Regions from separate parts of the Homo sapiens genome. Here region 1 is reported to be linked to region 2. Evidence: microRNA targets listed by miRTarBase, many of them from high-throughput screens and not tested one by one. Region 2 holds a microRNA gene; the other region holds the end of a gene's coding sequence.
Evidence for each region. Region 2 holds the annotated microRNA hsa-miR-6883-5p (AGGGAGGGUGUGGUAUGGAUGU, at 7,667-7,688, opposite strand). A microRNA usually pairs through its seed, bases 2 to 8, with sites in the 3' UTR of a target mRNA and lowers its output. Matches are read on the target gene's strand: a 7mer-m8 pairs with bases 2 to 8, a 7mer-A1 pairs with bases 2 to 7 and ends in A, and an 8mer does both.

Region 1 (11,077 bases), not on the chromosome of region 2:
TTTGCCCATCAGTAAAATGGGGATGAGCTGAACACCGATACCACCTTCTCAGGGTTGTCCTGAGGTCTAAATACGAATATATGTAAAGTGGTGACAATGGCAGTCCGTCCAATTACTATGTATATTCACATTGTTATGATGTCGCTGTCACCCCTCCCTGGCCCCCAGCCCTCTGCCTTTGAAGAGAAGGCCATTGAGAAGGTGGATGACCTGCTGGAGAGTTACATGGGTATCAGGGACACGGAGCTGGGTGAGTGAGGGCTGCCTGGGGGAGGGGGCATCTAGGTCTGCTGGGGGCCGAATCCACCCTGAGCCCCTTGGTCCCTGGTGTCATTTGTGCCTCCGTTCTGACCCCTCCCCCAATAGCGGCCACCATGGTGGAGCTGGGAAAGGACAAAAGGAACCCGGATGAGCTGGCCGAGGCCCTGGACGAACGGCTGGGTGACTTTGCCTTCCCTGACGAGTTCGTCTTTGACGTCTGGGGCGCCATTGGGGACGCCAAGGTCGGCCGCTACTAGGACTGCCCCCGGACCCTGCGATGATGACCCGGGCGCAACCTGGTGGGGGCCCCCAGCAGGGACACTGACGTCAGGACCCGAGCCTCCAGCCTGAGCCTAGCTCAGCAGCCCAAGGACGATGGTGAGGGGAGGTGGGGCCAGGCCCCCTGCCCCGCTCCAATCGGTACCATCCCCTCCCTGGTTCCCAGTCTGGCCGGGGTCCCCGGCCCCCCTGTGCCCTGTTCCCCACCTACCTCAGCTGGGTCAGGCACAGGGAGGGGAGGGATCAGCCAAATTGGGCGGCCACCCCCGCCTCCACCACTTTCCACCATCAGCTGCCAAACTGGTCCCTCTGTCTCCCTGGGGCCTTGGGTTCTGTTTGGGGGTCATGACCTTCCTAGTTTCCTGACGCAGGGAATACAGGGGAGAGGGTTGTCCTTCCCCCCAGCAAATGCAATAATGCCCTCACCCCTCCTGAGAGGAGCCCCCTCCCTGTGGAGCCTGTTACCTCCGCATTTGACACGAGTCTGCTGTGAACCCCGCAACCTCCTCCCCACCTCCCATCTCTCCTTCCAGGCCCATCCCTGGCCCAGAGCAGGAGGGAGGGAGGGACGATGGCGGTGGGTTTTTGTATCTGAATTTGCTGTCTTGAACATAAAGAATCTATCTGCTGTTGGACCTGTGTGGCTTCGGGGTGGGAGAGGGGGAAGATTGGGGCTGAGAAAGAATTCAGCAGCTGAAATCCATCTTCCGCAGGCTCCAAATTGAATTAGGAGCTGGCACCAAGCCACCTGCCCCCTCCCACTGTTCCTTCTGGCTGCAGGCCACCAGGCTTCCAGGCAGGGCCAGAGCTTCCTGGACTACTGAGGGTTCAAATCCTGCCCCCTCTCCCACAAGGCCTCCTACCCCCTGGAGCTTCACAAGGCTGCTGTCTGCAGCTGGTGACAACCCCCGGACCGTGGGGAGCACCAGGGCATTGAAACCTGGCTTGGAAATAGAAAGATGGAACCTCAGGCCTGCCAGAGCCCCACCCCTACACCGGGAGGTTGGGGGCAGGCGTGAGGCAGCCCCCACCCCACCCGGCCCAATGCTGGACACGCAGGCGTCCATGGGGCACCCTGCTTTGTCCTAGACATAAACCCAGCATACTTGTTTTGACAACCCACTCATCTTCGAGGATTGAGGGTGATCAGGGAAAGGCGGGGTGGGACCCTGGCCAGACCTGGAGGGAAGGGAAGGGATTGAAGCAAGGGGCGCTGGGCCAGAAGGCCCCACAGGAATGCTTGGGGGTGAGCCGAGAGGCTGTGGGGAAGTCCGAGGCCAGCTTGCAATCCTCGTTCCAAAAGGCGGGCGGGCACTGGGCCACCAGGAAGAGGGGAAGGGGGAAAAGGGGAAGACCCTGGGGGCTGGGTGTTGGTGGACAGACCCGGGTGGAGTCGGGGAGCCGCAGTCCTGGTGACTCAGGGCATCCCCGGGCACCTGTGGGCTCCTCAGGTGTCTGTGCTGGGAGCCGCTTGCGGTGGTGAAGGGGTGTGGCTATGTGTGTCTCGGGTGTTGGGTAGCACTGTGAGTCTATCAAGAGTGTTGATGGCTCGTGACGCAATGAGGGAGGGCTGTGTCGTGGGTAAGGGATGTGATAACCGGCTCTGTGTTCCAGGGCAATTGCAGGTGTAACTGGCAGTGTCTGGTGGTGGGGAGTGCAACGGAGTGACTGTGTCTTGGGGTGTCCCGGGGTGTGGGGGTGTGTGTCTTAGGGTGCTGTTTCTGGGGCAAGGAGGGGTGCTTGGCTAGGCCTTGGGGTGTTCAGGGGTGTCAGGGTATGTCTCGGGGTGTTGCTGTTTCCTGGGTGGGGGTGCTGGCTAGGTCTAGGGGTCTCTAGGGGTGCAGGTGTGTGTGTCTCAGGGCGTTGCTGTTTCTGGGTGAGGGTGGGGGTGGCCAGCTAGGTCTCTGGTGTCCAGCGGCGGGGGGTGTCACTTCTTGTGCCTTGGGTGTACGGAGTGTGCTGGTGGGGCCTGTCTGGGATTGTTGAGGGGTCATTGAAAGTCAAACAGAGTGTGGTCAGGGGCAGTTTTGGCAATAAGGAGTGTGTGTGCGTGTGTGTATCTCTCGGGGTGCCAAGTGAGACCCTATTTCCCAGCACTAAGGAGGGTGGTTCGGGTGATCATCTCAGAGGGCTGCATTTTGGGGTGTTGGGAGGGGCTGGAATTGAGGCAGTAACTCTGGGTGCGTCCCGGCGCTGGGGGTAAGACCCTGAGTTCAGGGATGTGGCGGCAGCAACCTGGCTGTGCTGAGATGGGGACAGGATGAAACTGAGTGGTAAGTGACAGGATTGTATGTCTTAGGGTGTGAGGCTGTGCCAGTGTGACCCTACTTCTCAGGGCAGGAGGCGAGTCTTTGTGTCTTAGGACGTGTGTCACAGGTGTCACTCAGCCCATCTTAAAGGAGCCAGTCACTGGGGAGAGTCCCCAGGTCGCCAGGCCTCCTGGTTCCCCTGCCCCCTTTCAGCCTCCTCCCAGGATATGACTCGCTGTGGCCCTAGCCGGGGCTTAAGCCCCTGTATAAATAGGCGGATCCCCTGGCCAGGCTGGGCCTGACCCAAGCTGGTCTACCCGAGGCCCTGCCCACCAGCACCCACCCCGACATCCACGAAGGCTTTGGCAGGGCAGGGGGGGCATTGCTGGCCCCACAGAATTGGAGTTAGCCTCTCTAGCTCCAAAGCCCCAGGGAGGGGGGCAGTGGCACCCCCTGCAGCTGCCCCAGCCCGCCCCAGACGACGCTCACATTTTCCAGTGTTTAGATTTTATCCGCTTTATTAATGAGGCAAGAGGCCCGATCCTGGGGGGGAAGGGGGCTGCTCCCGCCCTGCTGGGAGGAGGGGGTCACATGGGGCCAGACCAACTCCAGGGAGCCTCACTCCTCGTGGAGGGAGCCGCTGGGGCCCAGAGTGGCCCCCGCCCATTGCCAGGAGCAGAGAGGGGGGTCTCTGCCACTCCAGGCCCCCAGCGGGCGTGCGCGGGGTGGAGCGGCCCCTGGAGGCCAGCAAGGGCGGCGGGAGGAGCTGAGGAGCCGCCCCAGGAAGAGGGAGGGAGGAAGCGGCTTGCCGGAGAGCCAGGGCGCAGTGGGCGGCAGGGCTGAGCGGCCGGTGATGGGGACCCCACATCCCAGGCAGTGCCGGGTAAGGGGGTTGCACATGAGGGTCCCTGATTGGGGAGGAGGAGGGCATGAAGGGGTGGGGCCATGGCCACCTGCTGTCCGTCCTGTGTCCCCGGGCTCTTCTCCCTGATCTGTGCGTCCCTGTCTTACCGTCTGTCCATCCTCCCTTCCCATCTGGCCTGGTGGGCAGTTCCGCCCTTTCAGCCCTCACCACCAGGATATCAAAGAGTGGATGGTCGTGGGGCCGCCTCCAGGCCTCTGGGGCAGGGATATGGAGTGGAACCGTGGGCACCCAGGGTGAGGCAGAGGTGATCGGGGTAGGGCCTGGCGAGAGACCGCAGTGGAGCAGAGGCAGGTCCATGGGGCAGGGGCAGAGATGGGTCCATGGCACAGATGTGGCTGTGCCATGTGGGGTCAGAGATGGGTCCATGGGGGACAGGGACATGGCCGTGGGGAGAGATGTGCCCGTGGTGGTAGAGATGGGGCTGGGGCATCGAGGATGGGACTGGAGTAAAGCTGACATGGGGAAAGTCAGGTAGGGCCACAGTGGCAGAAATGGGTGAGAGCTATCAGATGGAGCCACAGGCCCCAGGAATTTGCTGGGTGTAAAAATGGAAGGTGGGGGTCGGAGGCACTGGCAGAGATGCCTGAGGGCGGGGCTGGGGGGAATCTTGCAGGAAACCATGAAGGGCAGAGAAAGGGCCAGTGGGGTTAGAGGGAGGCCCTGGAGCAGGAGATGGGGTGGTGAGAGGCAAAAGAGAGGGAGAAGGGTTTCCAAATGGAGTGGCCAGGTCATTTGGAGTTGCCCATGGCAACTGCCATGGGCAGAGGGGCCGCCTGAGAACGCCATGGAGTCAAACAGGCCCTGATGTTCTGAGATGGCACCGTGGGCTGGTCCCCGCCCGGGCCCAGCCAGCCTCACTCTGCCCTCCTCTCCTCTATCCAGCACCCCTGGCGCCTGACATGAGCCCTTGCGGGCCCCTCAACCTGAGCCTGGCGGGCGAGGCGACCACATGCGCGGCGCCCTGGGTCCCCAACACGTCGGCCGTGCCGCCGTCGGGCGCTTCGCCCGCGCTGCCCATCTTCTCCATGACGCTGGGCGCCGTGTCCAACCTGCTGGCGCTGGCGCTGCTGGCGCAGGCCGCGGGCCGCCTGCGACGCCGCCGCTCGGCCGCCACCTTCCTGCTGTTCGTGGCCAGCCTGCTGGCCACCGACCTGGCGGGCCACGTGATCCCGGGCGCGCTGGTGCTGCGTCTGTACACTGCGGGGCGCGCTCCGGCCGGCGGGGCCTGCCACTTCCTGGGCGGCTGCATGGTCTTCTTCGGCCTGTGCCCGCTGCTGCTGGGCTGTGGCATGGCCGTGGAGCGCTGCGTGGGCGTCACGCGGCCGCTGCTCCACGCCGCGCGGGTCTCGGTCGCCCGCGCGCGCCTGGCGCTGGCCGCGGTGGCCGCGGTGGCCTTGGCCGTGGCGCTGCTGCCGCTGGCGCGCGTGGGCCGCTATGAGCTGCAGTACCCGGGCACGTGGTGCTTCATCGGCCTGGGTCCCCCGGGCGGCTGGCGCCAGGCACTGCTTGCTGGCCTCTTCGCCAGCCTCGGCCTGGTCGCGCTCCTCGCCGCGCTGGTGTGCAACACGCTCAGCGGCCTGGCCCTGCTACGCGCCCGCTGGCGACGCCGCTCCCGACGGCCTCCCCCGGCCTCAGGCCCCGACAGCCGGCGTCGCTGGGGGGCGCACGGACCCCGCTCGGCCTCCGCCTCGTCCGCCTCGTCCATCGCTTCGGCCTCCACCTTCTTTGGCGGCTCTCGGAGCAGCGGCTCGGCACGCAGAGCTCGCGCCCACGACGTGGAGATGGTGGGCCAGCTTGTCGGTATCATGGTGGTGTCGTGCATCTGCTGGAGCCCAATGCTGGTGAGGGGCGCACCGGCCCCTCGAGCCACGCTCCTTCCCGCTCCCTCTCGGCACCCTCCCGCCCTTTGTCGTCCCAGGACACCTGGGGCCTCCATCCTGGACTCAACCAAGGCCCCGGCCCCTAGAGGCCCCACCTGCCCCGAAAGCCAGCATCGCCTTCTCCATCTGACCTCCCATCCTTCCTCCTAGCCCCCCTCTCCTCTTCCTTTTTGGGGTCTTTGTAGCGCACCCCGACCCACACAAGCCTCCTCTCCTGCCCCACCGTTATAAGTCGCCGCGCTTCATTCCCTAGTCCTTTCACCCAACCCCCTTGCTTTTCCTCTTTCCGGGACACCTGAGACTCCTCTACGGCCGGACCCCCACCCACTGAAGGTGTTTGTTTCTTTGCCCCCCTTTTTTTTCCGCATCCGTTTCTCATCTGGATCCCCATTTACCCTCCCTGCGACGGCTCGCCCCTCCTCCCAGGCTTTTACCTTCCAGCCACGCCCCCACCATCCCTGCGCCCCCCTGCGCCCGCGCCTGCTCTATAGCTCACACCGGCTTCCCCCGCAGGTGTTGGTGGCGCTGGCCGTCGGCGGCTGGAGCTCTACCTCCCTGCAGCGGCCACTGTTCCTGGCCGTGCGCCTTGCCTCCTGGAACCAGATCCTGGACCCTTGGGTGTACATCCTACTGCGCCAGGCCGTGCTGCGCCAACTGCTTCGCCTCTTGCCCCCGAGGGCCGGAGCCAAGGGCGGCCCCGCGGGGCTGGGCCTAACACCGAGCGCCTGGGAGGCCAGCTCGCTGCGCAGCTCCCGGCACAGCGGCCTCAGCCACTTCTAAGCACAACCAGAGGCCCAACGACTAAGCCAGCCCACCCTGGGCTGGGCCCAGGTGCGCGGCGCAGAGCCTTTGGGAATAAAAAGCCATTCTGCGAGCCCAGGCAGGACCGTGTGTCCCGTCGGGGCTTCGGCATCCACTGGGGCCGCGCGGGGGGCTGCAGGGACGCCGCGTGCGCCTCCAGGGTGGATGCAGTTCCGGGGCCTACCAGAAGAGGGCGCGGAGACACGGGGGCGCGGTTCTAGGAGGTTCGAGGGTGCCGGGCCCGTGGGCGCCAGAGCCGCAGGAGCAAGCGCACCGTGCGGGCGGCCGGGGCTGGGGCTCCGCTGGGAGCAGAGACAGAGGGTGTGTGGGGCGTTTCCTGACCTTGCCGCTGCCCTAACGGACTTCCGAAACCATTCTGCTCACTGCGGCTTTGAGCTCTTCCAATACAGCCCCAAAACCCTATCCCCAAACCATTTTGCCCCACGCCCCTGGGCGCCCCCCAACACAATCCCGACGCCCCCTCCCATCTCGGCTCACCCACGCTCCCCACCATAAGAACAGCCCCGAGTCCACGCCGCCCCTTGATCCTCTTCAGATGACACCCCCATCAGTCGAGACTCCCACGACCACCCAGCCACCTGCCCCGCAAACGTCCACACCTCCAAGCACGCCCCCACCCCCAATGACTGCACACAAGAAGACACGGAGGATGCAAGGATCCGGCAAATCCCAAAGGCCTTTTTAAAAACTAAGAGCTCTCGGGCAGGGGCAGGGGCAGGGGCAGGGGAGGGGGCTAGCAGCCCCCGGCCACGAAGTCGAAGTCCAGGAAGGCTGCCTGCTCCGCGGCTGTGAGGGGCCGCGCGTCGCGGGGCGGGCTCAGTGTGGGGGCCTCCCCGGTGAACTCCTCGTCGAAGTTGCTGACGTCGGTGCGGCCGGACAGCGTGGGCACAAAGGGCGGTGGCAGGCGCCGGGCCAACAGGGCTTCCCAGCCCAGAGTCTGCAGGGGAGGGAAGCGGAGGGGAGGGTCAGCCTGGAGGCTGAGGAGGGGGCGTGCTGCAGTGGGGACCAGTCCTGGGGCTCGGGGACCACGGAGAGGAGTGAGCATACAGAGGACAAGTGGGGTGGGGGGACTGGGGCTCAGGAGGGATCACCTGCGAGAGCCTGGTGGAGAAGCCGGATTAGGAAAAGTGGAGGCCCGGCGTGGTGGCTCAGGCCTGTAATCCCAGCACTTCGGGAGGCCGAGGCGGGAGGATCACTTGAGGCCAGGAGTTCAGGACCAGCCTGGCCAACATGGCGAAACCCCGTCTCTACTAAAAATACAAAAATTAGCCTGGTGTGGTGGAGTGGTGCACGCCTGTAATCCCAGGTACTCGGGAGGCTGAGGCAGGAGAACTGCATGAACCTGGGAGGCGGAGGTTGCAGTGAGCCGAGATTGAGCCACTGCACTCCAGCCTGGGCGACAGAGCGAGACCCTGGCTAAAAAAAAAAAAAAAAGGGAAAAGTGGAGATGTGGGATTAGGAGGGTCCTTGGGGGGAACAAAAGTGGAGGAGGGAAATGGGGGTGTCAAAGGAGGTGACGATGTTGCCCTGGAGGTGCAACGAGGCCCTTGAGGCGCAACGAGGCCCTTGAGGCAAAGCGGCTAGGCATGGGGGCCGTCTGCTGTGGGGTGATGAATCGGCCCTGGGGGAGGGCCGGGGTCACTGAGGTCCTTGTGGGGAATCTCACCCTGAAGAAGGGCTGTTTCTTCACATCTTCTGCATCTCTCTCGCTAGATCCCAGCCTCCGCTCTGGGTTCCTCCGAAGCAGCTTGGAGGAAGGAGCACTGTGTCAGGATCTGTCCCCTCCTGGGCCCCACTGCCCCTCCCCAGGCCCGCCCCACGTCGGGGGTCCTCACCCTTCTCATGATGCCGATGGCTTCGGCCGACAGGAAGCGGGGGTAGCGAACCTCGTCGTTGACGATGCTGTCGAAGACCTCCTCCTCATCATCCCCTGGGAATGGGGACTGGGGAGAGGGAGGCCCGGGGTGAACGAGGCCCCTCCTCTGGCTGCTCCAAACCCAGCCCGGCCTGAGCCCCACACTCTGCTGCAGCTCTTGGGTGCTGGCTTACTTGGGCAGGGAAATGCCCCATTTTATAGATGTGGAAACTGAGGCCAGGGAAGCAGAGCCAGCAGCCCTCAATCACACAACACATGGTGGAGGCAGACTTGGATCCCACCCTGGGCACGCGCAGGTTCCAATGAGATCCGAGACACACAGGGGCGGGGTCTCACCTCGCCAACCAGCATCTCGTAGAGCAGCACACCCAGTCCCCACCAGTCCACAGCTCGCGTGTACGACGTGTCCGTCAGCACCTCAGGGGCCAGGAACTCCGGGGTCCCACAGAATGTGCTGGTCCGGTCCCCATAGCCCATCCCTGGGGACAGCAAGGCCATGTGAGGTTATGGGGGCCAGAGGAGTCACTCAGCCCAATGTGGGGTTGTCCACACAGCCAGCCCTGTCCCAGGGTCAGGGTGGGGGGCACCCCGAATAGGGTTAGGGACCCCATTCCTTCCCCCTCCTTTGTCTAATCCAGAGGCCAGCCCCTCACCCTCCTTGCAGAGGCCAAAGTCTGCGATCTTGACGTAGCCCTCGGTGTCCAGGAGCAAATTGTCCAACTTCAGGTCCCTGTTGGGGGTTGGAGGGGTGGAAAGAGGGATGAGCGGGGGTCTGGGTCCTGTCCCCACAACGGGCAGTGTGCACATGCATGCACACACGCACACACCTGTAGACGATCTTGTGTTCGTGAAGAAACTGTAGGCCCAGCACCACGCAGGCGGAATAAAAGCTGCAGAGAGAGAGAGGCTGCTGAGAGGGGTGGGGCCACCCTGCAAGGAGGGAGGGTCACATAAGCCTGGCTTCCACATCCTCAAAAGCCCCCCAGTCTCCCCAAAGCTCTGGGAGGCTGAGGGAAGCAAGGCCTGAGGGTGGAGGGGTGAGAAGCAGGCTGCCAGCCTCTCGGGGGGACTAAGTGTCAGATGCTGTAGGGGAGGCAGGGGCCCGGGCTGGGGTCCAGGCTCACATGGCACGGGGCTCAGAGAACACGTCGCTGTGGATGTGCAGCATCAGGTCCCCACCGGCCGAGTACTCCATCACGAAGCACACGTGCTCCGGTGTCTGGAAACAGCCGAAGAGGTTCACCAGGAAGGGGTGTCCCGCACTGGTCACTGCCGCCAATATCCGCTTCTCACACATCAGGCTGGGGAGGGGTGGGGGATAGAAGTCAGAGACCATGGCCGCCACTTACTCCAGACTCCCAGATGGCAACCAAAGCCCATACAGAGGGAAGCAGAACTGAGAAACGTCATCTCAGCACCTGGATACAGCCATGCCTGAAGGTAGCACACTCCTGGACTTTTCAGATCCAGACCAATAAATTTCTTTACTTGTTTCAGTCTTTCTCAGTTGGGTTCCTGATTATCAAAAGGATGCTGGGAAGACCAGGCACAATCTCAGTGCCTGTACCGAATGTTTAGAGGGGTTAGGCACTGTGTAGAGAGCACCTGACAACCATGTGTGGAAGGCAATAGCATTCTGCTTCTCCACAACAAGAGGGGTTCTTTTTTTTTTTTTTTTTTTTTTTTGAGACAGAGTCAGGCTGGAGTGCAGTGGTGCGATCTTGGCTCACTGCAACCTCCGCCTCCTGGGTTCAAGCGATACTCCTGCCTCAGCCTCCCAAGTAGGTGGGACTACAGGCACCCGCCACCATGCCTGGCTGATTTTTGTATTTTTAGTAGAGACGGGGTTTCACCATGTTGGCCACACTGGTCTCGATGTCCTGACCTCAGATGATCTGCCCACCTCAGCCTCCCAAAGTGCTGGGATTACAGGCGTGAGCCACCATGCCCAGCCAAGAAGCTGAGGTTCTGAAGGGAGAAGTGACCTCCCCAGGATCTCCAAGCCCATGCTGCAGAATTGAGATTTGAACCCAGGAACCTGACCCTAAAGCAGAGGCAGTATGGTGGCACCACAAAGGGCACAGGCTTCAGAGCCTGAGTCTCTAGCTTTGAATCCTGGACCTGCTGCTTACTGGCTGTGTGACCTTGGGTAAATTGCTGAACCTCTCTGTGCCATCAGTATTTATCTTATAGGGCTACATGGAGGAACAAATGAATAACTTTCCTAAGAGCTATTATTATCTTGGTATTAGGCTAGTAGGTATTAGTGACTTTTTGTTTTGAGACAGGGTCTCACTGTGTTGCCCAGGCTGGAGTGCAGTGGCGCGATCTCAGCTCACTGCAACCTTGACCTACTGGGCTCAGGCGATCCTCCTATCTCAGCCTCATGAGTAGCTGGGGCTACAAGCATGTGCCACCACACCCAGCTAATTATTTTGTATTTTTTGTAAAGATGGGGGTGTCACCATGTTGCCCAGCCTGGTCTTGAAATTCTGAGCCCAAGTGATCCACCTGCCTCGGCCTCCCAGAGTGCTGGGATTACAGGTAAGAGCCACTGTGCCTGGCGTTAGTGACTACTATGAGTCACTCTCCCTGTAGCTCCAAGGAGAGAACTGCTCTGTCATTTCCCAAAAGAGAAGAAAGAGGTCCCCAGAGGACCACGGCAGGTCCCCACCTCTCCACCTCGTCTCGGGCCACAATGTCCCCTTTCTTCAGAGCCTTGATGGCGAACAGCTCCCCACTGGGCCGGAATTCGGAGAGGAGCACCTGGAACCACAGTGGGCAG
Region 2 (11,077 bases):
GCCTTGGTTTGCACATTTTAAGTTTGTGATCTGTATTAGCTTTTTCCAAGTGTAGATGATATGTGGGCAATAATACATAAGCATCTGTAACTCAGGGGGGAGTTCTGGAGCTGGAGATGAAAATCTGGGATGTATTAATGTATTACCTGATATTTAAAGCCATGAAACTGGAAATGACCAAGGTAGTGGGTACAGATAGAGAAGAGGTTGGAAAATTGAGCCTTGGGAACAGTCCAACATTTAGAGATCCAGAAGGTGAGGAACAGCAAAGAAGTCTGAGAATAAGCTGCTGATGAAGTAGAAGGAATATCAGAAGGACGTAGTGTCCTAGAAGGCAAGCGAAGAGTGTTTCTAATGGAAGAGTGAGCATCGGTATCAGCTTCCACGAAGTAATGGTCAATAGATTTAGCAATGTGATGATCATTCGGCAACCTTAACAAGGGCAGCTTTGATGGGGGCGGTGGACACCTGATTAGCAAGGGTCCAAAGGAGAGTGGGAAGATGGAATTGGATAACTTGCTCTGTTTGCTGTAGAAGGGAGTAGAGAAATTGAGTGGTAGCTGGACAGGCGTGTGGGGTCAAGATAGCTTTTGTTGTCTTGCTTCTAAATTGGGGGAAATTAGTGTCTGTAGGCTGAAGAGAAAAATCAAGTAGAGAGGGATTTTTTTTTTTTTGAGATGGAGTTTTGCTATTGTTGCCCAGGCTGGAGTGCAATGGCGCGACCTTCGTCTCCCGGATTCAAGAGCTTCTGCTGCCTCAGCCTCCCGAGTAGCTGGGATTACAGGCGTGCGTCAGCCACCACGCCCGGCTAATTTTGTATTTTTAGTAGAGATTGGGGTTTCACTGGTCTCGGACTCCTGACCTCAAGTGATCCACCCGTCAAGCCTCCCAAAGTGTTGAGATTACAGGCGTGAGCCACTACGCCCGGCTGAGAGGGAAATTTTGATGGTATAGGAAAAAGCAGTGTCTTTGAGATGGCCAGAGGGATGGGAAATCTAGTAAAAGTAGGGGTTGGCTTTAGGTGGAAGCATTCTTCTACAATAATGAAGGAAAAGAAGAGTACGTGGTCACCGACTCAATTAGGTAGGTAGGTAGGTAGGTGCGATGTGAATGTTGATGGGGAACTCCGGAATGGTTTATTTTCTCAGTGAATCAGGAAGTAAAAGCTGAGAAGGGATTCGTAGTTTGAGGTGAGGGTAGGAATGAAACAGTCTCATGGGGCAGTATGAGAGTGAATGAATTGGAGGAAAGTAACGATTGCTGAGTAGCACTAAGGAGCCACCCGAGTGTGGTGGCGTTAGGAATTGAAATCCGCAGTAAAAAAGTTTTTGCAGGTCGATAGGACTATGAGAATCGCAAGAGGGCGCTCGCGGGCTGGTCCCTGACGGCCGAGTCTCTGAGATTCTCAGAATAACGCGGGAGATTCTCCAAGGAAAGAACCAGAAAACAAACTGCTTTTTCCTTCTCCAGAGACCGAGATACCTAAATACCAAAACTAGTGACGCTGTGAGCAGGATTCGAACCTGCGCGGGGAGACCCCATTGGATTTCGAGTCCAACGCCTTAACCACTCGGCCATCACAGCCGCGTGCGCTGTCGGCCCTGTGCAACTATAGCTGCCTATCAACACGCCCGCCTCCAGCCGGCTCCGCCCGGCTCCGCCCGGCTCCACCCGCGCCGCCTAGAGACGTCTGCGCTCGTGCGCCTCTGCTCGGTGGCGCAGACCATGCCTTCCCTCCAGCAGACGTCAGCAGCCCCATTGGAGCGGCAGCCTTCCTATTCTCCCTCTCCTCCCTGAGCATAGGATGGAAACAAAACGGGTCCAAATCCGAGCCCTGTCTTCCATACTCTTGAGGACAGACCCTGAGATGCCTACTTCAGGCTACTTCATGAAACCGAAGTGAGAATCTGTAGTTTCCAATACACACTAAAAGTGCAGGGAAACGGAGGTCCAAAGACGGATTGGCATGTAAGAAGAATCTTAGGGAGAGTCTAGAAGAAATGTTTCTTAGAAAGGCCCTTTGAAAGTGGAGAAGTGTACTTGCAGCAATAATATATCACTCCCCGCTAACTCAGGCACCGCTGGGATTCGAACCCAGGATCTCCTGTTTACTAGACAGGCGCTTTAACCAGCTAAGCCACGGCGCCGGCGTAAAACAGGTGTTCCTCAAGATAAATCAACTCTTAGTGGGTGACAGTAAGTGAAAATCAGCAAACTGCCTGCAGTGGTTCCTCAGTGACTCATCCCTTCCTAAGGTGCCTCTTCCCTTTCAGGTTCTGAGCCAAAGGGTTAATGCTTTGCTTCTCCATTCTTCCACACCTTTGGGGCCAACTCAACCATGAGTGAGCACATGACTCCATGTGTCCCTTAGCTACCTAGACTGACCTGCTGAAGGGCCCTCTCTGTGTGGTGACCAAGAAGCCAAGGAAGGCCGGGCGCGGTGGCTCACGCCTGTAATCCCAGCACTTTGGGAGGCCAAGGCGGGCAGATCACCTAAGGTCAGGAGTCCGCGACCAGCCTGACCAAAAATGGTGAAACCCCATCGCTACTAAAAATACAAAATTAGCCGGGCGCGGTGGTGGGCACCTATAATCCCAGCTACTCGGGAGGCTGAGGCAGGAGAATCGCTTGAACCCGGGAGGCAGACGTTGCAGCGAGCCGAGATTGCACCATTGCACTCCAGCTGGGTGACAGAGCGAAATTCCGTCTCAAATAAAAAAAAGGAAGCCAAGGAAGACAAACACCCTCGAATACCTCAGGGCACCACGGAGTTAAGCAGGGTTCCTCTGCCTTGGCCACCCGTGACCCGGGCTGGAGCTTACCCAAGCCCTTGGCCACACGCACCTCTCAGCTCTCCTTCCCAGGGCAAACCCAGCTGAGGCCATGCTAGAGGGGACAGCAGAGTCTGAGCTGGACGTGGACGTAGCGGGCTCAGCAGGGCCCTCACCTGGACAGGATGGGGGAAAAGAGGAATGGGGGTCGTCAGGAGATGGCCCTGTACACCCTCACTACAACCTTCCCAAAAGCAGGGCCACATCTCCCCTTGACATGCTCCCCTCACCCCAACCCCAAACTTCATTCCACAAAGTCCTGGGCGTTTTTATCTTTTTGTATTAAAAAAGTAGTAACAGACACAAATATCAAAAACACAAATGCCATCGGCAGAGGGTACAGCTGAGAACGCCTGGGTCCCACCTGAGGGGCAGCACCAGGGACTCCATGGTCCACCAACCTCCCCCACTCCAGAGCAGCTAGGGGCTGGAACCCCCGGGTCCTGCTTGGGCCTCAGGCTCTCCTCCCATCTGGGGAGGAGGTGGGAGAGAGAGCTGTCTCCCCGCAATAAATAAGTGCAGCCCCAACCCTCAAGAGTCAGATTCAGGCTCAGCTGGAATATGGAGAGGCCACTTCAGCAGCTTGTCAGCAACTTTGTCCAGGGGAGGGAAGGATTCCTCTCCAAAGGTGGGAGGTGACACTCCTCTGGGCTGGGCTGCGGAGTTCTGCTCTCTGCTCCCTAAGAGGCCAGAGGCAGCCCCTGGATCCTAGGCTGGTGATGGGGGTCCGGCCCCCTATGGTGGGAGAAGCTGGGGCAGTTTCCCACTGGTTGGTCTAGCCACATCTGAGTTCTGAGAATTGGGACATAGGAGAAGAAAGCCTCTCATGGACTCCTGGAGATGGTCCCAGAATGGAGTCTAGCTGGTGCAGTTTCCTGCTGTAGGTAAGGCTGGACTGGATGAGCTCCTGCCTTCTTCCTCCTCCTCCATAGCCAAGTCCTGAGAGCTTGAAGCCTTGGCCCCGCCTTGGGCCTCCTCGCAGCCCTCTCCCTCACCACTGCCGCCACCGCTGCTGCCCTGCTCGCCTCCACCCTCTTCCATGGGCTCCAGCCCCAGTCCATCCAGCTCTGAGAAGAGTGGGTCATCAGGGTGACCAGGATCTTGGGTGCTGCTCCCACAGTCCACACAGGCCTTGGTGAGAGAAATGGACATGAGAGAGTCAGACAGGGTTCTCACTGCTAACCTGCCAGCGCAGCTTCCCACCCCCAGCCCACTGTGCTTCCCGAAATGTACTCCCAAGAAGCACCAGTCCACACAGATGCACCTGCGGTCCAACAAGGTTGGACAGTGCCTTGTGCCCTCTACCCAGATGCCGTTACAGGACAGTCACAATGCATATTAGCATAGGATAGGCTGTGAAAAGTTCTGCAAAGACTCACGCGGCTTAATATTCTATAATCCACAGCAAATTTAGTGGAATCAACATTCTTCAGAATTAATGATCCAAGGACATCAAGGAGATCAGCTCTTGGCCTCGATCCCTTGAACTTGAGCTCAATTCTTTTTTCTCCCCCTTGAACTTGAGCTCAATTCTTTTTTCTCCCCCTTGAACTTGAGCTCAATTCTTTTTTCTCCCCGTCCCAGGCTTCTCTCACCATCACATCAAGAGCCCGAGGCAGTTGGCCCTTCCGGACCCAGGAGTGCACAGCACCCAGTTCCCGCCGCTGGTCCTCAGAAAACCGAGGCTGCTGCTTCTGCATGGCTCGGAGCCGCTCCCGATCCTGCTTCAGCACAGAGGTCATGTCCCTGCCCAAGAAGGGGTTCAGAAGGCAGAGGCTGGGATCCAGGACCCGGACCAGGACCCATGAAGCTGGCATCCTTCCTCTACCACAGCTTCCCACCTCATGCTCCTCCCCTAAACTAGTGCTATGCGAGGTCAAGGCTTCCAAGACCAGGAAACCTGCTCTCCTCCTGGGAGGAACTAGTAACAGGGCTCCAAGGAGCAGGAAGAAAGATAGAAACGTTTATCCTATCCAGGGCAGAGCCAGCCCCAGAAAAGAAAACTGCCCCCACTACTACCTCTGAAAGGAAGGCCAAGAAGGCCTCTGAAATGCCTCACCTGGAGGGCACCTGGTAGGTCATCATGACGCGCTGGTCAGCATTGGCCATGAGCAGCCAAATGGGATCCTGGAGCACGTACTTAATCACCTGGTCCCCAGGCTCAGCCCCGCCCCGAGCAGCCCCAGCCTCAGCCTCGGAAGAGTCGATGCTGCCAAAGTATTTGCTTGTGTGGCTGCTCTGGCTGCTGCCTGTGAAGTGGGGGGCAGACCAATGGGAGTCAGGCCGGCTGCATGCCCACTCCTGGGACCTCACAAGGCCTCCCTCAAAGGCCACATGTCCATCCCAGTGGCCTTAGGAAGCTCCGCCAAGACGGGGCCTGGGCTCCCGGCTCCCCAATCACTGCCCTACCCTGGGAGATGCTGGAGGCGGGGTACTCACGAGTGATGCTGGCTGAGGTGCTGCCCCCTTCATGGGAGCCTGAACCAGACCCAGAGCCCAAGCCAGAGCCCAAGGAGCCCGAGGCTGCGGAGCCTGTGCCGGAGCGCGAGTCCTCTTGCAGCAGAAGTTCGAGCAGGTCACTGGAGCCGGAAAGTGCGTCCTGATTGGAGGACTCAGTGACCTCCGCCTGGAGGAGGGGAGGGGGGCAAGGAGGGATGGAGGGGTCAGCACCTAGGCCTCCCTTCAACTGCTCTTACTGGTTGTGGGGAGAGGCACATCCAACCCCAGTGGTCTCTGCTCCCCACTTCGTGACAGTAGGGCCAGGCTGAGAGAGAAGAAAGCTGGCGAAGAGTGGGGATGTGAGGCCAGACCCTTTCCAAGTGACAGATGCTCTCTCAGAAGTTATTGAGATGTCCTCACCACCTGTCAGACAGACAGGACTGTCCCTTCAAAGAGGAGGTAGCCAATTTCTGCCTCATTCAGAAATTCAGCTGGGGACTCCCTCCACCTCCTGGAGGCTGAGACGCCAGCCTGGCAGAGACAGCAGGCAGCACAGGGTGGCAGAGGGGCGGGGCTGGGGTGGGGGCTGGCAGGCAGACGCAGGGGTCAGTGCTCACCAGTCTGGCCTCTGGCTCAGCAGCCTCCGCACTGGGAGGTGGGGGCCCGGCACTGCTCCCAGGGCCTCCTGCAACAGCAGCCCCCTCAGCACGGGGGAGCTCCTCCAGCTGCAGCAGATTGAGCTGGAGTGGAGAGCTGCATCTCGAGTTGAACAGTGGAGAGTCCGGGCGGTGAGGAGGACTCGGGGCGAGGGCGGGCAAGGATGGAGAAGGGGAGTGCGAGGCAGGAGTGGGAGGCCCTTCAGCAGGGGTCTGGAGTGCCCCATAAGGATAGCTGGATGGGGTTGGGAACAGATAGTTAGGGAGCACCAAGGCCACCATTGGGGTCACCAAAGGGGCGGGGAAAGCAGCTGGGGGCACAGATGTGGGAGCAGGGGGAAGAGGCTGGGGGCCTCCTCGAGGAGAGAACACTGGGAGAGGGTAGGGCTGGACAACCGCTGGGAAGGGGGTAGTGGCTGGTGGGGTGGGCCAGGGGGTGGAGGGTGGCACGGGTGAGGGGTGTGAGACATAGCAGGGCGCTTCAGCCCGAGGGTTCTGGTGGTGGCGTGAGCGCTTGGCTTTGGATCGGCAGTGGTGTCGGCGGCTTGGGGGTGCGGGGCCGTGGTGGCAGCCTGTGGGGAGAGACTAGGGTTAGCAAGGACCTCAACCTGGGGTTAGTACCCCTGCTACCCACACTGCCCTGACACGCTGACCAGGGAGAGGACAGGCCAAGGTCCCAGAGAGAGCTTCTCAACCCACACAGAACGGGGGACTCAGGAGGTGGGGCACCTTCAGGGAAGAATCACAGGAGCCAGGGACAAGGGGATTTATTGAGAAAGGAACAAGGCCAGGGAGAGGTTACACGAGGGGTCGAGCTGGGGGTGTGCGGAAGATGGAGGCATGCTGGCAGATGGAGGAAGCAGGGTGAGTCCATGGACACATGGACAGATGGCTCTGGTCCGCCAAACTCCTGTGGGCACTGCCAGCCTAGGCATTCCTCCTGCCCATCGAGGCCGTATTCTGCCTAGCTTGCAATGGAGTGAAGAGTGGGGCTGGAAAGCCCAGTCCTGAGTCCTGCGTCTGCCTGCAGGGGATCTCCCTCAGGCACCTGGAGGGGCTGCCTTCCACCTGCCCTTGAAGCCCAGACCCCACCCAGAGTTGGCCCAGAATCTATGCATGTCTCTTCATCAGTGACAACTGACTCCTAAGTGGGCATACTTCCTGCCCCTGCCCCCAGGCTAGGCCTGAAGTCGCTTACCTGGAGACAGCACCTCTGCCTGCCCATCCCAGTGCCATCCCCCCAGGCTGCCCTCCTCTGGCTGCAGCCCGGAACCCCATCCTAGTGGGGAGAAGCTAGCGAGGGGCCTGTCCCTAGGCAGGGCCTAGTGGTGGAAGCAACACCAGCCTGGGTCCCTGGAGCAGAAACACCTCCCTTAAGACCCACCCCCCAACAATCCAGTCCTAGACTGGGCAGAGGGCAGGCTCCAGGAGGCCCCAGGTGGCTACCTCGCTCGCCAAGGGCTGAGGGAGCTGTGGAAGAGCTGTCGAGTCCACGCAGCCTGCCCAGGTCTCGGAAGCGGCTGAGGAAGGCTTGCTCTTCCTTCTGTGTGTGCAGGGACAGCACGGCCTTGGTCAGCCCCACTGGACGGTAGGCGTCTGGGGCTGGGTCAGGGGCTACTGTGGGGCTGGGGGCTGGGCTGGGGGCTGGGCCTGGGGCTAGGCCAGGCAGGTCCTCCATCATGATGATGTCTGAGGAGAGTGAGATAGGGAAAGGTCATCAGAACCACTTCAGGGGTCAACACATCCATACCACACCCTCCCTGTCTGATAGCCTAGCCAACCCCTGGCAGCTCTGCCCCACAGCCAAGCCTGGTCTCCATGTACGTTTCTTGGTCACCTCTCTGCCAACGGCTGGCCCTGGGTCCTCCTCTCCATGCAAAGCTGGCCCAGAAGAAGAGACGATACTCAGGCCCCTCCAGTGGCCACTCCCTGCCAGGAACTCTACTGGGATGACCCCGTCACAACTCTCATTGGAAGAGAAGCCCACCCCTTGGCCTTCCCTCACACATTTTCTTGTTTCTTTTTTTTTTTTTTTTTGACATGGAGTCTCACTCTTTCTCCCAAGCTGGAGTGCAGTGGTGCGATCTCAGCTCACTGCAACCACCACCCCCTGGGTTCAAGCGATTCTCCTGTCCCAGCCTCCCGAGTAGCTGGGACTACAGGCGCGCGCCACCACGCCCGGCTAATTTTTGCATTTTTAGTAGATACAGGGTTTCACCATGTTGCCCAGGCTGATCTCGAGCTCCTGATCTCAGGTGATCCTCCTACCTCAGCCTCCCAAAATGCTGGGATTACAGGCCTGAGCCACCATGCCCAGCCCCTCATGATTTTCAAGGTCAATATCCAAAGACCCTTCAGGGATGTTCAATTTTCCTTGCCTTCAGACCCTGTGTGGTCAGCACCTCAGGGCAAACCCTCTATCCCAGACTCTGTGTTTCAACTGACAGTAACAATACGAGAAGCAGAACAGGGGAAGGGCAAAGCCGAGAAGCCTGGCAGGGAGGGGAGAGCAAGAAGCAGTAGCCCCAAGCCCCAGGTCAAGGGAGGCCTCCTTCTCTCCATCAGGCCCTAGAGGGGAGGGGAAAGGCAGGAGGGAGCTCTAGCTGGGAGACCGGTGGAGCCCAAGCACTGCCCCCCAATTCCACACCCATACCCGACTCCGGGGGCTTCTTGTCTCCCACATGGACGATGGTGGAGCTGAAGCTACACTGACTGGTGACGGACACCACACTCTCCGCCTTATTGGCCAGGGCGAGCGGGCTCAGGGTGCCTCCCACCACTGGCTCCTTCCGTGGGGTGGCCCCCTCCCCAGACAGCGCTGCTGACGGCGGATCTGTGCAGAGAGATGGTGCCAGTTACCATCCCCACCCCCACTGGGAAGTCAGGAGAGAGGATCCCAGGGAAAAGGGGAAGGGGATGGTGGTAGGGAACAGAGGGAACAGTCTGGAGACCAGGAGGCTGGGGAGGAGAGCAGGGCAGAGCAAGAGGGCCCAGAAGCAGAAGGGAAAAGACACAGGGCCACCAGGCCAGGACGGGGCAGTGGGAGCAGGGTGCATTGGATCTTTACCTTTCTTGGTCCCCACAGAGACTGGACCTGTCCTCTGCCTGTCGTCGTCAGAGGCTGAGGAGGTGGTATAGGAGGAGGAGGAGGCACATTTACGCTTAGTGGTGCTGGGGAGGTTGCAGCTCTCCAGGTACCTGGGGATGGACACAGCACAGGGCATCAGAGCAGGGCTTGGGGTGGGCAGGGTTAGAGCCCGAGGTGGAGAAGATGCCTGGCAGGCCTTACCTGAGGATGCTGTCCAGGCAGTTGATCTGCTGGTAGGAGCAGCTGGAGGCTTCTTTCCTCTCGGCCTCCTCAGGGACCAAGGCTAGTGGGGCCTGGACGGGAGCAGAACCCGCCTCCAGCTCTGGGTCTGGGGATTGGCAGGGAAGGGCCTTGGCCTTGAACGTGCCTGTAGCTGGGGCAAAGAGAGAAAGAGGAAAATAGCCTTCTCAAGCTCACATGGAAAAAAACAGCAAATGGGTTGGGGGTGAAGGTCAGGGGACCCCCCAGGTCTGTCTCTTCACCCACACATCATCATCAACTCACCAGGGAGGCGGGGCCGGGACTGAGGCCGGGCCCGAGACTCAATAAAAAGCTGCTGGCCCTGGTGCTTCACCAGATGCACATCCTTACAGATCTGCTGGAAAGTCACCTGTGGGACACAGCACCACAGTGAGCAGAACCAGGGGGTGTCGCCAGTGTCAGGGGCCAAGGGCACAATAAAACAAGAAGGTACCAGTGGGGAGGCACAGACGCCTTGATGGGAGCAGGACAAGAAGGAAAAGGCAGGAAGGAGAGGGCAAAGGAGGATCGGGCAAGACTCTGGGACTGGCAGTGCTGGTTCCAAGAAGGAGAGGGGAAAGGGCGATTAGAGGGTGAGGTAGGAGCAGGTCACTCACTGGCGCAGGAGGCCCAGGCCCCTCTGCATCACCCCCGTTGCTATCACTGGAGGACCCAGGGCTGTGGAGAGGGCCTGGGGATGTCACGGCGCCGACTCCACAGAGTCCCGTGGGGCTGGGGCTGTGGACGGGCTGCAGCAGGGAGAGGGCAGGTTAGATGGCTTGACCCGGCTTCCCACACCTTTTCTCACCTCCCAGGCTCCCTCTCCGCTACTCTCACCTGCAGCAGCAGCCGGTGGATCTGCTCTGACAGCTCCTGGATATCAGTGTCCAGGGAGGGAGCTGGGCTGGGGGCCGGGGGAGTGAACACGTCCTCATTCAGGGGGGCCCTGTAGAGTGAAGAGTGAATCCAGCCCTGGCCCGGTCCTGTCCCCCACCGCACTGCCCTATCCCCAACGCCAGCTCGGGGGCATGGCCCACTTACGTGCGTACTTTGTGGCGGCCCAACACGAAGGCTACCTTGCGGCTCCAGGGGTGCACAAAGCCAGCCCAGCTGGTGTCCATGGTGACATACTCCCCGTTGCGGGCACAGAAGCGGATAGGGGAGTGGTCAAAGGGCTGGCCCGCCAACTGCAGAACTGATGGAAGTGGGAAAGGAGGAGCGGTCAAAGGGAGGGAGAGCTGAGTAAGAGGGAGGCCATGCCACTAGAGATCCAGGAGACCAAGGCACCAAGAGACACAACCACAAGGGCAGCCACTCAAAAGCCCAGGACAGTGGGAAGGGCGAGCAGGGCGAGAGGAACTCACTCTTCTTGTGGATAGCCAGCATGAGGGGTCGGTCCTCAGGATGCAGGAACAGGAGCACTGGGGCCCCCAGGAGGTCCTGGGGCAGGTAGCCCAGCAGGGGGGCAGCCCTGAACGGGAAGGAGGCATCAGAGTGGCCGTGGCCTCAGCCCTGGCTGCCCTCGTCTCCTCTAGGTCCTATCCTCACCTTTCATCCACATCCTGGAAGAGGCAGCTGGGTGTGTGCCGCGTAGTGAAAATCCTCTTGTCAGGGGGTATCCGGGGAGCTGAGGCACAGAGAGTGTGGTCACTGGGTTTCGTCCAGAATGCCCAACTCCTCAGCCCTCCACTCTGCCTGGGCCCAGGCTGGCTGATGATCTGCCACACAGCTCTGCCCCGGGCACTATGGGCCCAAAGATGGTCTGGGCCAATCCTATGCCCTGTATCAGTAACATGACTGAGAGCAAGCAAGGCATTCTTCTC

Region 1: miRTarBase lists GIPC1 as a target of hsa-miR-6883-5p. Seed matches in the 3' UTR shown: 7mer-m8 at 690-696, 7mer-m8 at 984-990 and 7mer-A1 at 1,054-1,060.

The regions. Positions count from the first base shown.
Region 1 is chr19:14,467,857-14,478,933 of GRCh38, reverse strand. GIPC1 (GIPC PDZ domain containing family member 1) reads left to right here. Exons shown (of 9, transcript NM_005716.4): 8 at 169-250; 9 at 367-1,172. The coding sequence ends at 518. It overlaps PKN1 (protein kinase N1), which reads right to left. Exons shown (of 22, transcript NM_002741.5): 15 at 10,967-11,058; 16 at 9,417-9,593; 17 at 9,120-9,182; 18 at 8,946-9,022; 19 at 8,629-8,771; 20 at 8,252-8,359; 21 at 8,083-8,163; 22 at 7,075-7,353. The coding sequence ends at 7,150. It overlaps PTGER1 (prostaglandin E receptor 1), which reads left to right and starts at 3,580. Exons shown (of 3, transcript NM_000955.3): 1 at 3,580-3,672; 2 at 4,597-5,555; 3 at 6,108-6,468. The coding sequence starts at 4,614. The coding sequence ends at 6,374. RefSeq lists enhancers at 72-587, 2,927-3,595, 6,587-7,235 and silencers at 2,028-2,510, 6,660-6,749.
Region 2 is chr17:8,137,379-8,148,455 of GRCh38, forward strand. MIR6883 (microRNA 6883) reads right to left here and starts at 7,693; the gene lies at 7,616-7,693. PER1 (period circadian regulator 1) reads right to left here. Exons shown (of 23, transcript NM_002616.3): 9 at 10,803-10,881; 10 at 10,619-10,725; 11 at 10,296-10,449; 12 at 10,092-10,200; 13 at 9,872-10,003; 14 at 9,519-9,624; 15 at 9,216-9,387; 16 at 8,994-9,124; 17 at 8,580-8,759; 18 at 7,373-7,615; 19 at 5,888-6,498; 20 at 5,271-5,457; 21 at 4,891-5,080; 22 at 4,427-4,577; 1 more. The coding sequence ends at 3,690. It overlaps TRS-CGA1-1 (tRNA-Ser (anticodon CGA) 1-1), which reads right to left and starts at 1,584; the gene lies at 1,503-1,584. It overlaps TRT-AGT5-1 (tRNA-Thr (anticodon AGT) 5-1), which reads right to left and starts at 2,147; the gene lies at 2,074-2,147. RefSeq lists silencers at 1,454-1,513, 1,534-1,703, 2,064-2,113 and an enhancer at 2,511-3,189.